Regions from separate parts of the Homo sapiens genome. Here region 2 is linked to region 1. The links come from fine-mapping of genetic effects on gene expression. Tissue or cell type: whole blood. Region 1 holds a variant in brackets; the other region holds the start of a gene. All regions are shown on one strand. Distances are between the middles of the regions.

Region 1 (8,000 bases):
AAAGCAAACCAAGTGGTCGTGGTGTCACCCGAGCCTGCGCCGTGTGAATTGGACATGCAAAAGCAAACGCAGCAGCAGAGTGATCAGCCTCTTTCCACCTGCTTGCATGTCCTATAAAGAGAGCCCTCGAGTCCAAAGTCTGTCCTGGACAGCCTCTGTGATAGGTCTGGGCAGACCTTGGGTGTGTGACGAGGCAGCACCCTGCCCTGCCAGTCACACCACTGGCAGGAACGATTTGGGGCCACCAGTGGCCACAGGGGCAGAAGTCACAGGGTTCCAAGGCCACCTTGAATTCCTCTTTCTTCTGAACTGATTGAAGGAAATTTCATCAGATGTGAATCACTAACAAATTTTCTATTTCTCTCTCCCTCCCTACTTGTCTCTCTCTGATTTTTCTTTTTTGTTCCGTTAATATCCACCAAACTTTTCCTTGCGACCTCCCTATCTGCTCCACCTTCCTCCCGCTAAATGGTGGTTGCTGTGCAATGGGGCATGTGCCTTCTCTCCCTGCCCTGGGTGGGGCTGGCCCTCCCTCCGCACGGCAGTGTGGGGATACGGTCTCCTCTGTGTGACCGTCATCTCCCTCTGCTCCCTCCTGGGGGCCAGCGTGGTGCCCTTCATGAAGAAGACCTTTTACAAGAGGCTGCTGCTCTACTTCATAGCTCTGGCGATTGGAACCCTCTACTCCAACGCCCTCTTCCAGCTCATCCCGGAGGTATGGCAAGCCAGGGCCTTCACCCCGGAGCATGCCGGCGGGCACAGTGGGAGGACCTCCGTTTGGATAGAAGGCATAGAGAGGGCACCTGGAGGCCCTTTCCTTTTGGAAAGCGAAGCTAGAACTTAGGCGTGAACTAGGAGAGGCAGCCCAGCATAGGCTGAAGAGCTGGGTTCAAATCTCAGCTCTGCTATCAGTAGGTTCCGTAACCCCAGGCACACCACTGACCTCACACTGCCTCTGTTTCTTCAGATGTGAAATGGGGAGAGCAATAGACCGGCCTCAGGATGATGTTGTGAGGGTGGAACGAGCGAGTCTGCTGCAGCACTGAGTGCCTGGTGCGGAAAGTGCTGTCTGATGTGGGGTGAAAAGATGCAGTGTAGCGAGCTCACTCTGGCTTAGTTGTGGTGCTCAGATTAAGGCTTTGGGTGCAGAGAAGTTTAAAAAACATCATCAGCCGGGTGCAGTGGCTCACACCTATATTCCCAGCACTTTGGGAGGCTGAGGCAGGTGGATCGTTTGAAGTCAGGAGTTCAAGACCAGCCTGGCCAACATGGTGAAACCCCGTCTATACTAAAAACACAAAAATTAGCCAGACGTGGTAGCGCACGCCTGTAATCCCAGCTATTCGGGAGGCACAAGAATCACTTGAACCCAGGAGATGGAGGCTGCAGTGAGCCGAGATTGCACCACTGCACTCCAGCCTGGGTGACGGGAGTGAGACTCCGTCTCAAAACAAACAAACAAACTCCCACATCATCAGAACCCACAGTTCTCAGTAAAAAGATTGTCCATAGGGAGTTTTGGGGCAAAGGCAATGCAAGTCAAACAATGTCTGGTTTTATATACCTTGATGGTACCTTTGCCTAATAAGTTCATGAGAAAACTTGCCACAAAAGAAGGAGCTGATGGTTCATCTAATTTGGTGTAATCCCCTCAGCAGACCCATTAATTACAATAAGCACAGGACGTCTCCCTGTGGGTGGTCTCGCAGGCCTGGACAGAGCCGCAGTTGAAGCAGAGATGACTGCATGCGCCTCTTACAACACTTGGTGTTTTCTGAAATGTCAGTTGGCTCCCTCCTAGTGGATCCTTAGGTTAACTCCATGGCATCGATAGAACAAGTAACGTTTTACCACGTTGGAATCTGACCTGCACAAGAGCGCATATCCCTGAGTCGAGAACCCAGCTTTTGGGATTTCTGAAGCTCAACCCCATGATTCTGTATTCACCATCCTTTGTGGCTTTTTGCAGAGAAGTGTTCGTTGCCTATTTTCACTTCACTTTTCCCCCAAGATGATTCGACTCCCCTGGAAAGTCAACATGAAAGTGTTGTTTCCCTGGAGGGTGGTGATTCAATTTGGCCTGTTTAAAACATAAAGGCAACAAACAGCCCAGAGTTCCTTGAAGTTGGGATCAACTTTTATTTTGGACCAATTCATGAGAGGGCTGAAGTTTATTCAAGGCCCGTTTCCCATCAGAAAATGGAGGAACAACCCGGTAAATATATATACTTCCTATGTACCCACAAAAAAATTTAAGAATAAAATAGGAGCAAGTCGTTAGATACTTTTTTTTGTTTGTTTTTGAGACAGTCTCACTCTGTCACCCAGACTGGAGTGCAGTGGTGCCATCTCGGCTCACTGCAATCTCTGCCTCCTGGGTTCAAGCCATTCTCCTGCCTCACACTCCCGAGTAGCTGGGATTACAGGTGTGCCACCAGGCCCAGCTAATTTTTGTATTTTTTTTTTTAGTAGAGTTGGGGTTTCGCCATGTTGGCCAGGCTGGTCTCAAAACTCCTGGCCTCAAGTGATCCACCCACCTCGGTCCTTTAAAGTGCATGAGCCACCGTGCCCGGCCAGGTCATTAGACACATTCACAAGAACCCACCATAAATCAGGAGCTTACCCTAGGACAGAATTCTCTTGATTTCTACTCCTGTCCTCTTCCCAGTGGATTCTCCCCTCCCTCTTTGATAAGTGACAGTTTCAGAAAGGACTCAAAACAAAACCCAAAAATTGACGCTCGCAATAACACAGTCCACTTTCTTGGTTCTGTGGTCACTGGGAGGTCTGCGGTTAGGAAAACGCTGCAGTTCTTATTACTTAACTGGGAAATGGGTTTCCCGTTTTAGAAAGTATAATTACACCATCTCCCTTTGTGTTTACAGGCAGGTCAGCCAGGAACACTAGATAAGATGAAAATAAATACAAGTGTCTGCTCCTTCAATATGAAATCTATTGGCAGAGAATGCCTTCATAGCAAAGCACCAAGATAAATCAAAAGTGGAAAACCATATCGGAGGTTTTTCTTTCTGGGATTAAAATTCTACAGATGATCAGTCTTTTGCATCAGCAAATAAGCTTGAGAAGAACCTGGCAGGTTTAGTGATGTCACATCAGGGAAACACCAAGGACTAGATTTTTGCTGGAAAGAGGATGGGTAGACGGCAGAGTTACTCCATTATGCCTCTCTCCTTTCCTAGAGTCAAGGAAGTAGTTAAGAGATAAGAGGGGGATCAGTAAAGATGCTTTATTTTCTTTAAAACTCATTTTCTTTTCCTGGGTCCACAGGCATTTGGTTTCAACCCTCTGGAAGATTATTATGTCTCCAAGTCTGCAGTGGTGTTTGGGGGCTTTTATCTTTTCTTTTTCACAGAGAAGATCTTGAAGATTCTTCTTAAGCAGAAAAATGAGGTGAGGCCCAATTGTTGCTGAAGAAAGCTCTTCTAGGGAAAACACCCATCTCAAACAATGTTGATGTATTGTGGTGGTGGTGGTGATGGTCTTAGCCCAATATCACAATTTCCGTGAAACTCTAATTTCTTGAGGAGACAATCCCATTTCACCTCCTGAGGATATTTGGCCAGAAGTGAGGCCAGACCAGAAACTAGATCTGGCCAGGGTGCCTTCTACTAAGCAGTAGTTTATCCCCTTTGTTTTGTTCTAAGATTATTTCCTTAATATATTTGTATCTTTACAGGATGGGGAGAAGAGCTTGATACCATGCATTCATTCTGTATGAAGTATGAGGCTGCAGAGAAACAGGACTATTATAGTACAGTTTCAAAAAGATATCTTTAGTGGCTGGCATGCAGTTATTCCCTAAATAGCTGCTGAATTGAGTGAGATTAGCCATTGCAAAAGAGGAGCTCTAAATATTTGAGCAGTGGCTGCCTTGGTGGAATAAGCATGTACCCCGAGGAGACAGCTTTGATATCTGTCTGACACCAGGTCCTTCGCACTTGGTGCAGATTTATATATATAGATATTAGAAACGGGGTCTCGCTTCGTTGCCCAGGCTGCTCTCAAACTTCTCAGCTCAAGCAGTCCTCCCACCTCGGCCTCCCACAGTGCTGGGATTACAGGTGTGAGCCACCGTGCCCGACCATGGCTTTATATAATAGCTTTTGCTATGTTTCTGGGCACGTGACCTGCTTGTGTCATCTTCGATGGTAAGGCTGAGGTCTTCCAGTGTGTGAAGCACTTCCTTGGAGCAGGTGCTCAATCAGGTTTGTGGTTTTGGTGAATGTCATGCTGATCCCTCCCTGTCACCCTTCCAGCATCATCATGGACACAGCCATTATGCCTCTGAGTCGCTTCCCTCCAAGAAGGACCAGGAGGAGGGGGTGATGGAGAAGCTGCAGAACGGGGACCTGGACCACATGATTCCTCAGCACTGCAGCAGTGAGCTGGACGGCAAGGCGCCCATGGTGGACGAGAAGGTCATTGTGGGCTCGCTCTCTGTGCAGGTCAGTGGGCCACCAGCTGCTTGGTGGAGCCTCTAAGAGGTTGACTCAGGCTTACCTTGAGGGCACATGGTCCAGCCTTTGACGCTGTGGGCCCTGGGGGTGTGCTTTCTCCTAGGACCTGCAGGCTTCCCAGAGTGCTTGCTACTGGCTGAAAGGTGTCCGCTACTCTGATATCGGCACTCTGGCCTGGATGATCACTCTGAGCGACGGCCTCCA[T/C]AATTTCATCGATGGCCTGGCCATCGGTGCTTCCTTCACTGTGTCAGTTTTCCAAGGCATCAGCACCTCGGTGGCCATCCTCTGTGAGGAGTTCCCACATGAGCTAGGTAAGCGTGCGTCCCCCGTTCCACTGGTGCTCCCTTGGGTGGTGGTGTAGGCCCCCTTCCTGTGGCCGGTTCCTTGCTCCCATCTCCCTGTCTTCACAGTGCTTATTGTAACTGATTTAACACACTCCTAAAGCTTCATGGACCCTAATCACCTTTTTTTTGGAGACGGAGTCTCGCACTGTTGCCCAGGCCGGAGTGCAGTGATGTGATCTCGGCTCACTGCAACCTCCACCTCCTGGGTTCAAGCGATTCTCCTGCCTCAGTCTCCCAAGTAGCTGGGATTACAGACGCCTGCCACCACACTCGGCTAAATTTTTTTTTTTTTTTTGGATTTTTAGTAGAGACAGGGTTTCACTACGTTGGCCAGGCTGGTCTTGAACTCCTTACCTCGTGATCCGCCCGCCTCAGCCTCCCAAAGTGCTGGGATTACAGGCTTGAGCCACCGAACGTGGCCTAACCACCATTTCTTAACGATTAAATAGATAATTTAAAATGATGGGGTTTTTACAGGGGTGTTTGTTTCCTTTTAGCCCCATATGCAGTGGCTCAGTTCTCACCTATACAGTGGGGTTAATAAGAGCACCTCCTTTTAGAATAATAGTGAGGATTAAAGGAAAACAAAGGGTGAGAGGGACTTCCCATGTGCCAGGTGCTATTCTGAGCACTCAGTAAAGGCTCTCTTTTGTAGCCTGTTAATCTTCCAAAGGCTCAGGTGCCTGGCAGGTGCATGGCAGCTGGATGAACCAGGGGGTAGGAGGGACTTAGTTTGATCAGAGGGAGAGTGTAAAAAGCTAGTAATTACTCCAGAGGCTTTAGGGACGACGTAGGGTCAAGTTCTGGCTTTGCCATATATTGACTTGTGACTTCGGGCAAATCACTTCTCACAGTCTCGACACTTAACTTCTCGCAGTTTTGATTTTGTTTCCATGGTAGTTGTGAGGAAGGGGGTTCCTTCTGTTTCACTATGAATCCAGAGAGAAATGAGGAGGCCAGTGCCAGCTGGTCATCTATTTTTAAAATCCTGAGAAAGATTTTCAGCCTTTAGGCTGGGTATACGGCCAGTTTGGCAAATGGAGACGGGTCCTGAACAGGAAGTTCAAGGGCCTGTCTTGTCACTTCTGTCTTGAGTCTAGGGCTGTCTTGATTTTTTTCACCCACACTTTTAGCAGTCTGATGTCATCGGTGCCCTCTGTCTCCCACGACCTTGTATGACTGGCTCTCACTTTGTCGCCAGGCTGGATTCAAACTCCTGAGCTCAAACAGTCCTCCCAGCTGAGCCTCCTGAGTAGCTGGGATGACAGGTGTGCATTCACCATGCCCATCTTACTCTTCCTTCCTCGTCCCTCCCCTTTTCATTCTCGCTGCTGTAGGAGACTTTGTCATCCTGCTCAACGCTGGGATGAGCATCCAACAAGCTCTCTTCTTCAACTTCCTTTCTGCCTGCTGCTGCTACCTGGGTCTGGCCTTTGGCATCCTGGCCGGCAGCCACTTCTCTGCCAACTGGATTTTTGCGCTAGCTGGAGGAATGTTCTTGTATATTTCTCTGGCTGATATGGTAAGTGTTCCACAGTTCACTGGATGAGAGGGCGGCTAAGGGGATGGATGTTAGGTAGGTAGTTTTTTTTTATTTTTATTTTTTTGAGATGGAGTCTCACTCTGTCTCCCAGGCTGGAGTGCAGTGGCATGATCTCAGCTCACTGCAACCTCCGCGTCCCGGGTTCAAGTGATTCGCCTGCCTCAGCCTCCTGAGTAGCTGGGATTACAGACGTGTGCCACCACGCCTGGCTAATTTTTGTATTTTTAGTAGAGATGGGGTTTCCCCATATTGGCCAGGCTAGTCTCGAACTCCCGGCCTCAGGTGATCCACCCGCCTCGGCATCCCAAAGTGCTGAGATTACAGGCATGAACCACCGCACATGGCTGGTAGTTTGTTTTTAATAACATCTTCCTTAGCTTTCTTTCACATACCACAGAGTTCGTCTGTTTAAGGTGTACCTACCATTCAGCGGTTTTTAAGGGGGCATTAGATTTTAAAGGAGGAAAAGTTTATGTTTTTGTTAGCATATGTCATTAAAGAAAATGATTATAATTTATCTATGGTCTTTATTAATTATTATGGAATGGCTGTATATAGATAAGAGACAGAAGAAAGGAAAGAAAATTACGCATAATCATACATCATACTACCCCTAAAACAATAATAGCAATACTTTGGTTTGTTTCTTTTTTTATCTCAATGCATTGGGTGTGTCTTTTTCTTTAATTTTTTTTTTTTAGACAGAACCTCACTCACCTAGCCTGGAGTGCAGTGTGTGATCATAGGTCACTGCAACCTTGAACTCCGGAGCTTAAGTGATCCTCCTCCCTCAGTCTCCCAAGCAGCTAGGACTACAGGCTCCAGCCACCATGCCCAGCTAATTTTTTGAATTTTTATAGAATGGGGTCTCTATGCTGCCTAGGCTGGTCTTGAACTTGTGGCCTCAAGGGATCCTCCCATCTCAGCCTCTCAAAGTGCTGGGATTATAGGTGTGAGCCACTGCATCTAGCTTGTTAATAATATCTTGATAACAAAAAGACCTCTTAAAGTGTTTAAAGTCCATAATAAGGCCAGGCATGGTGGCAGGCACCTGTGGAGCTACTCAGGAGGCTGAAGTGGGACAATTGCTCGAGCCCAGGAGTTTGAGGCTGCAGTGAGCTATGTTCGCACCACTGCACTCGAGCCTGGGCAAGAGCGAGTGGAAAAAAGGAAAAAAAAAAGTCTATAATATAAAGTTTATTTTTTATCAGAGTACATTTATTTTTAGCCAGCCTCTAAACTCATCCAGAGCCACATACACGTTGAGTACTTTGTTTTACCTAGACAGTTGTAAAGACATGGTACCTGCTATTGTTAATTTTCTTTTTTTGTTTTGTTTTGTTTTGGAGATGGAGTCTCGCTCTGTTGCCCAGGCGGGAGTGCAGTGGTGTGATCTCCATTCACTGCAGCCTTGCCTTCCGGGTTCAAGCAATTCTCCTGCCTCAGCCTCCCAAGTAGCTGGGACTACAGGCCTGCGCCACCACGCCCAGCTAATTTTTATGTTTTTAGTAGAGACAGGGTTTCACCATGTTGGTCAGGCTGGTCTCGAACTCCTGACCTCTAGTGAGCCGCTGCACCTGGCCCTGATAATTTTCTTTGTCAACCAACCTGATCTATATCTCCATCACTGAATTG
Region 2 (8,000 bases), 140 kb after region 1:
TAATGTTGATGCTATTAAGGCGAAGGTTCATCATAGAATTCAAGGAGGTGGGAAGACAAGGTTCTTCTTTGTTTGGAGGCCAGAGCCGTACTTTATGGTATCCACTGGGCCAACAGATCAGCCCTCTTATCCTACCCATCGCAGTCTACCTGAGCTGGGAAAGAAGGCTGATGCAGACCTAATTTCCCAGCTCCTGGGTCTGTGCCCTCCTTTGTGGCTGAGTTGACTTGGCTTGGTTTTCCCTCTGAGGTCATCACTTACTTATCCTTCCCTTATAAAATCTACTTTCTAGAGCTGACAGCCACTTGTTTGTTTCATCTTTCCTGAGAACTAAGAGAGGTTCACCCAGCTCAGTTCTTCTCAAAGACACCCCGTCTGTGCATTGTGCTTGTTTGCTCATCCATGAAAAGAGGAAGAGAGAACAGCCGTGGATGTGATGTCAGTATCAAAACTTCCTTGAGGACAGGCGGGATAAATTGGGCAAACGGCTGAGTTCTCCCGCAGCCTTTGGGAGATTGGCCCTGAGAACCCAGAATAGATGCCCATTATACATCATGCGTGTGCTATGGAAAGGTCTGTGCCAGGCAAGCCTGAGAGCCTAATTCGCTATTCCTATGGGGTTCCATGCACCCATCCTGGCTGTCAGGCCCCAATACCCATCATACTTGACCTGTACTGGGTATTTTTTCACTCAGATCCCTCACTCTACAGTGACTCTACCAGAAATCTTGAATTCCAGATGAGCCACGTCATGCCATTGTCAGCATAGGAGGCCCTTTGAAGCCCCAAAATGGGTCATTTGCACTCCCTTCTTCTGCCTGCTCCTGTTCCCATGAGTGGTTGGCATGGAAAGGGCCATCAGTAGAACTTGGCTGGCAACATTTGCAGGAGCAGGAATCAACAGAGGACCCAGGAGAAAGGGATGGAGCCCAGGGCATGAAACATAGTCCAGATTCCTGCTGGTATGTCCATGTGACTTGGTTTCAATTCCTCACCATTGTGTCACTGTGGCCTTCTAGAGAAGTCCAAACTGCTGGAAACGGGCAGTGCTTTCTGCGCTAACCCCTTCTGGTCTGACTGCTCAGCTTAGAGGAAGGAAGAAAACACTCAGAATTCTGAGAGCAAAACCCCCCAAAAAATCTACTCAAAGCACCTGAAGTTCATCCCTGGGGAGGAGAAGAAAGGAAGAGCAGATGCCCTGTATCTCCATGGGGGTACTGAGGCACAGAGCTAGGGCCGCCTAGCTGCCCAGGGTAGATCTCAGAGGGTGACTCATCTGAATTGCCGATTCCCAGCACCAGAGCAAGGCGCTCCTCAAGAACTGAGTCCGGGTTCATGTCTTCTGGGACCCCTGGCTTCCCTTTTCCCACTTGAGAACTAAAACTGGGTGCTCTGCCCACCCCGCTCACCCCGCCTTCACTTCAGTGCTCTTTCCCCTCATTTGTCATCCTTGGTGACAGAGATTGCTTTTCAGAGTGACCCGCATTCCACCGCCTTCTCCCCCTCCCTGTGAAGAGCCACATTTACTGGTAGTCCCGTGGCTAATCCTCCCCTGCAGGGGGGTGGGGGTTGTGGACAGACCCCTGTTGACGGTGATGTTGGGGACTACCCACAGAACAAAAGGTGCAGCCTCAAGGGCTTGAGCGGGGAATACTGATGCCTGGGATCAGGTAGCTGGGAAAACAGGGCAGTTATGTAACTGTGTTTACTGTGGCTCAGGTGGCTCTGAGAAGGCAGAGGCAGCCCCTGACAAAGGGCAGTGCCAGAGGTGGGGAAGCCGCGACTTGCAGGGAGGGAGGCCCCTCTTAGACAGGGGAGTCGTGCATGCAAAGGAGAGAGTGCAGTGGGATTTGGAAAGGAAAGGAATCTGTTCTGTTGTTGACAGCCAGCCGGCCAGCCGCCTTATCTAGGACAATCTTCCCAGCCTCAGCCTCTCCCTAACCGTGCCAGCTGTGGAGGCAGCAAGGGGAGCTGACGCTAGAGGGAGGCGTCGGGAAATCAGACACCTGGTTCCTGGCTCAATCTCCAAACCCTGCTACTTTTCCCCCCTTAATCTACTTTTCAAAGAGAAGGAATTCTTCTCTTTAGATAAGGGCAGAAAGGGAGGAATCAGTCAAATTTCCTTATGTTTTCCCTGCCCTGTGGCCCACTGTCTCCCATCCTCTCGGCTGTGAGGCCAGATGGGCACCACGGAACATGGTGGATTCTGACCTGAGAGAGGTGATAAACCCGGCAGAGCCCAGGCCTAAGTAGACAGGCAGAAGTCAAAGCGGCTCAGGAAGAAAGCTCAGGTCTCCCGTAGACCTACCCCGCCTCCTCCTGCAAAGCTGTTTACTCAACGCCCGATTCCCATAGAGATGAAACTGGTAGCCAGTCCCCAGCTCCTTACCCATGGCTGCCACCTCCCTTTGTGAGAAACAGGAAGTGGGGAACTTTGTCAGCTCTGCTGCACCCTCTACACTAAATATTTATCTTGGAGTCCAGGTCAGAGCCCTAGAGAATAAGAGAAGCTTGCTGCTGGTGAGGGGGTATGGCCAGGATTCCTGGAGTCGGAAGAGCTTCAGCTTCACCATCTTGGGAGAAGAAGGAAGAAAGTGAAAGCGATGTGGTCCTTCTTAGTCCCAAGGACCCTGACAGGTGGGAAAAATGCGTGTCTAAGAAAATGGGCACCTATTTTATCCCTGAGGGAGGGAAGAGGCTACCTGGCGTGGATAAGAAGGTTTCTAAGCTTCAGGTTGGGGGGCAGTGCACTGCTGCGTCCCTCAAGAAGTGTCCCAGGGTTCCCCCACTGCTCAGCTGTCCTCCACAGCAATGCCCCTGCCATCCCCATCTCTCCGCCTTCCTGGAGAGTCAGAGGTTCTTGGAAGGAGTCTTCAAGGTCATCTTGTTCAGCTCCCCGCTCAGTGCAACAGTTGCCTTTACATAGATGCCCCACAACTGGCAGACTCAGAACCCCTGGAATCATGTAAAAATTTGTCCTGGGAAGCCTTGGACCTGCTTCCCTATGACGTGTCCCCCAGTGGTCCCACTGCTGCTGGTGCAGCTGTGTGTCCACATGGCAGCCCCGCAGGCGCTAGAGGCCAGCAGGCCTATCTGAAGCTTCTCAACCCAAACATCTCCTCCAGCTTTCACATGTGATGTTTCAAGGCAACGGGGAGAGCTTCTTTACCAGAACGAGGGAGAAGATAAGACTAAAGCAGTAATGGTGGTAGGGACTGAAAATCACTTAGTCTTTTCTCTACTCTCTTTCTTTCCAAACTTTGAGTTGAGTGGTGAGCTTGGAAAACACTCCAAAACTCCTCGTGGCCTCTGGCACCAGTCTGACACCCAGTAGGAATGCAGGAGATTACGTTAGTTTTCATAATTTAGCATTGATCACTCCCAGCTCGTAGCTAAAGTTGATCAGTAACTGTTGGTTGGTTGGCTGGTTTGGGGCTTGGGGATCCCTGAGCCAACTCAAGGGCCAGAAAGGATTCCAGAGTGTTTCCACGGTCCTTCAATGTTCCTTAAGCATTCCCACTTTCTGAAGTGCCATACAGAGGCTTGGGGCAGAGACAGGGAGAGGGGATGACCAGAATGGATGGGGAGCCGGAAGGGCCGGGGCTCTGGGGACCCAGCTCAGAGCAGCGAGAACAGCGGAAAAGCAGGCAGATCAAAACAAACACAGTGTCTGGGAACACCAAGACCCTCCTAATCCCATCCCCGCCAAAGGGACCCCACCCTTATCCTCTTTAGGGGCGCGGCACGCCCGGGGGGGCCGCTCCCTTGGGCTGATTTCCTCCCTGTGCTTGCACGTGTGTGAGCGTCCCCACGTTTGCAGTGTACGCGCGCGTGTTTGTTTGCACACGACCGGCCGCGCGCCGCCGCAGGCACACCCTCTCCCCCAGCGCGGAGGGGCGGCGGGGCCTTCCCCTGGTCCGCTCCGCCACTCTGCCTGCGGGGCGCCCTCATCTCGCTCCCGGCCTGTCCGTCTCTCCCGGCTTGCCCAGTTCACCACTCCTGCCCCCTTGTCCTGGCTCCGCCCGGTTCATCGCTCCTGCCCCTGTCCTGGCTCCGCTGCGAGGCCGCTCGCTTCCCACACTCTGGAAATGTCGCTGGAAACTCTGAGTGGCCCGTGTCGGGCCGCCCGACCCCTCCCCGACGCCAGCCCTGCGGTAGGGGCCGGGATGGCAGCTGGGAAACCAGAGAGGGCTCCCCGGGGACCCTCGGCGGCCCCTCCCGGCGCCGCCTCCCCGCCGGCCAGGCCTCCTCGGCAGGGGGCCACCAGTGTCCCCGCGCGCGCCCCGACGGACGGAGAGCACTCGCACGTCCCTCCTCTCCGGCCCAGCCCCGGCCCGCAGTCCAGATCCGAGACCCAAACTCCGCCCGCCCCGCCGCGCGACTCTCACGGTCCGGCCTCCGGCGCGCGCCCCTTCGGCCTCCCTCTTCCTGCGCCGGCGCCCGGCCCGGCCCGGCCCGTCCTGACCCGGTCACGAGGGCCGCGACGGCCCGCGCTTCTCCTTGCCCTTCCTCCTCGAGCGCCCGCGCCAGGCAGCAGCCGGGCAGGGATGCTCCTGCGCTCCCGGGCGGCCTCGGGCCCAGCCACCTGCTCGCCGGGGAAGGTAGGTCCGGGCAAGGAGGGGCGGGGAGTAGGCGAGGCCGGCGGGAGGGATCCGTGCCCAACCCCAGGGAATCGCACCTAGCCCCTCCCCGGGGTCCGCGTCCCAAACTCTGGGAAGTACCTCCCACCAGCCCTCATACCAGAAAAAGCGAAATTCAAGAAAAGCTGTCCTTGTCCACGTGGCCTTGTCGCTGAGAAATACCTGGGAAAGCTCTTAGGGCCAGGCACCCAAGGTCAGGGCAGTGTTCAGAGCAGGGAGGCCAGTGCCCACCCCAGCAGAGCCGCCTCCCCTCTCCCGCTCCAGGGGCCTCTCCCCGCTCCCGGGGCTGGCTGCCTGCCTGGAGGGGAGGTCTGAATTCTGGGAGGACCCCTCCGCTCTCTGCTACATGGGGGACCAGTCCCCAGATGCTGCCCTCTTCCTTGTAAGTCCTCCCTAAGTCTCCTGACCTGGCTGCCAAGAGAAGGACTCGGACCACCCTTCCCTGGAGGTTCCTGTGGTGGGGGGCGACACAAGGGGCAGGGTTGAGAAGGGGCAGATGGGGGCACCAAGGGTAAGCAACCTCTGACTACGGGTCGTGGGGGACCTCCTGCCCTACCCATCCTCCAAGAGAGCAGTTCTCACCGAGCACGAGGTGGGCGGGGAGGTCAGGGAAGGAAGGCGCTGTCAGCTGATGGCCCAGGCGGCAGCTGCTGAGCTGCAATTTGGCCCGAAGCAGTCAGCTGGGCAGGGAGGGGTGCTGCGAGGAGCCGACCAGCTCCAGGTCTCCTGACCTTCCACCCCACCCTGCCTCAACTCCCCCCCGCAAGGGGAGGTGGAGTGTGGGGACTGGGGTGTGTCTGCCTGTTTTGCTTTGGTGGGAGTCCTAATTGGACCCAGCTGGGGAGCTGCTCCTCCTCCAGCCTCAGCCCTCCACTCCCCCCAGTCAGGCATGGGCACAGAAGAGCTGTGTCGCAGCAACTCAAATGTCAGGAGTCCCCACAAACTCAAACCAGAGACAAGGAGCTGCCCCCAGCCTTGGCTACACCCTCGCTAGCCCTGGGCAGGAGCTGGGTCCAGGGGCTGAGTCATCCCAGCCTTATTCTACCTTCATCCCCTCTGGGCCCCCAACTCTTCCACTGCTCACATGACTGCACCTCCCACCACTGTTCAGCTGACACCCCTCTGTACCCACAACCCCCATGCAGCTCATGTGGTCCCTCCGGTGGTCCCCCCAGAAGTCATATTCGCAGCTCTGCACCCAGATTCCAACACACACATACACACAGCTCCTCCCGATGCATTTGCAGCCCTCCCTGAGAGCCCCCAAGGACCCCACAGGCACAGGCAAACCTGATTCCATCCAGTCCTGGGCAGTGGCAGAGCTTGGCTGTTTCTGGTCCAGTCCAGCAGCCAAGACGCGGAGGGATGGACGCCGTAGCACCGTGCTCTGGGTCAAAAAGCCCCCTTGGACACCCCAAACTGGGAGCCCCTTTTTGTCCTCTTGCACCCCCACTCTGGGCTCCCCTCTTGCCCCTCCATTCCCTGGGTGCCTAGGGCTCCCTTCCCCTTCCCCAGCCTTGGGATGAGGCAGAAGAAGCTGGCTGTGGGCAGGCATGGTGCTGCCAGGGAAGACCCTGCACTCACAAAACAGCCTGGAGGGGCGGGAGAAAGTGGAGCCAGGGAGCGCGTGTATGTGCGTGCACATTTGCCCACATGCAGAACACCCCAGGGCACTCAGCACCAACTCTCCATGGGCATGAGCAGGTTCAGCTCTGCCCTCACCCACCGCTTCTGTCTCCACCCACCCGGAGCCCTCTGAGTCCTCATTCTGTGAAGGAGGCCAAAGAAGGGCCCGATGCTCCCTGTGAGCTCGCAAGAGTGGGTCTTGCTGCCTGGAAATGCCCCCGACGCTCCCCTTGGCCCTATTGGGCTTAAGGCCCTGCTGACTGCTTCCTGGAGGGCAGTGGGCGGGTGGCTGAGTAATCCCTTGTGCCCGCAGGCAAGAGATGCCCACACGGCCTGGGGGAGGCAGAGGGAACTGAAACAAAGTCCTGTGTTCCCAGGCCCCCTCTCTGCCGGCTGCCCCACTTCCCCTGCGCCTTCCCTCCGGGGGAGTGGGGAAGCCAGCTGCACCCGTGCAGGGAGAGCCCCACGGGCTCCTGGCCAGCCCCTCCCCTCCTCCTCACCCAAGCTCCCCCTCCCCCACTCCCACCCGGAGCTCCTGCCCTGGGCCTAACAAGTGGTCCATTGTGCCCCTGGGAGCCGGCAGGCACGGGCAGCCTGCAGGCGGGTGCCTGGCGTGGCCTGTTTCCTGGGTCCTTGAGCTAGTACCCAGCTGGTCCTGACCCCCTCCCACAGCCGGCCCCTCCTCCCCTATCCCAGGGTCGAGCCAAGAGGGCATGGGCAGCCTAGCCTAGCAGGGCTTTCCCTTCCTTCCTCCTTCCCCACAGAGGACACGCAGAGGAGCAGCTGGCTTGCCCGGAGTCCTCCCACCTTGACCCAAGCATGCAGGGCCCACCCCGCAGCCTCCGCGCTGGGCTCAGCCTGGACGACTTCATCCCTGGCCACCTCCAGTCCCACATAGGGTCTTCCTCCCGGGGGACACGGGTGAGTGAGTCAGTAGGGAGGAGGGTGTCCTGCGGGCCCGGAGTTGGTTGGGACGCTAGCAGGTCAGGTGGGGGCAGGAGGATGAAAGGGATGGAGGGAGGGCTGAAGAGAGCTCTGGGGGGCCTCGCTGGTTTCCCACAAAATCGTCAGGCGGGCCTGGGACTGTCACCGAGGGGTGTGGGCTGTGCCTAGTAGCCATCCCTCCCTCCCGCCCTGCTGGGCCCTGAGCTGCCGCTCCTGGCCCCTCCCCGCAGGTGCCCGTGATCCGGAATGGTGGCTCCAACACCCTTAATTTCCAGTTCCACGACCCCGCGCCCAGGACTGTGTGCAATGGGGGCTACACACCAAGACGAGATGCTTCCCAGCACCCGGGTAGGTCTGCTCAGGAGCCTCATGCTGGAGATGGAGGGTCAGGGCCCTGCCATCTGGCACTGCCCTGTGTCAAGCGGGAGGGGCAGCAGCTGGAGATGGGGTTCTCAAGGCCATGAGGAGGTTCCTCAGAGGCCTCTGGGCTCACTATGAGCCCCTCCCTGCGGAGCCTGCTGACTCTGCAAGAGACACCCGCTTGGGGAGAGCAGGCTGATGCATCCCTTCCCCTGCCCTCCAGCCTGGTGCCAGGGAAAGGAAGCGTGCAGGAGCCCTGGGCGCCGGAGGACCTCCCACAGGGACTGGGGATGGAAGGGTGGAGGTGATGTGGGTATCTGTTGGCTTGGGAAGGGGTGGAGACTGTCCCATTCAGGCCCAACAGGCTACCCAGCAGGAGGTTAGAGAGGCAGTTCTAGATCCCAGTCCAGAGGTCCTGGGAACTCCTGG

What was found. PIP is the estimated chance that this variant, and not a neighbour inherited with it, causes the effect.
Region 2: it holds the start of SORBS3, and the variant in region 1 is fine-mapped to the expression of SORBS3 in whole blood (TOPMed, PIP above 0.99).

What each region holds. Positions count from the first base shown.
Region 1 is chr8:22,411,492-22,419,491 of GRCh38, forward strand. SLC39A14 (solute carrier family 39 member 14) reads left to right here. Exons shown (of 9, transcript NM_001128431.4): 4 at 546-715; 5 at 3,289-3,411; 6 at 4,278-4,466; 7 at 4,582-4,789; 8 at 6,160-6,344. Among named protein-coding and RNA genes, the nearest start is that of PPP3CC, 26 kb to the right of the region's middle. The variant T/C (reference allele first, on the strand shown) is at 4,683.
Region 2 is chr8:22,547,422-22,555,421 of GRCh38, forward strand. It overlaps SORBS3 (sorbin and SH3 domain containing 3), which reads left to right and starts at 4,506. Exons shown (of 21, transcript NM_005775.5): 1 at 4,506-4,601; 2 at 7,031-7,187; 3 at 7,442-7,559. The coding sequence starts at 7,086. It overlaps LOC124901905 (a long non-coding RNA gene), which reads right to left and starts at 6,704. Exons shown (of 2, transcript XR_007060851.1): 1 at 4,741-6,704. RefSeq lists enhancers at 1,645-2,145, 3,471-4,435, 4,659-5,536, 5,344-5,393, 5,537-6,412 and 1 more and silencers at 3,824-3,953, 4,264-4,443, 4,594-4,673.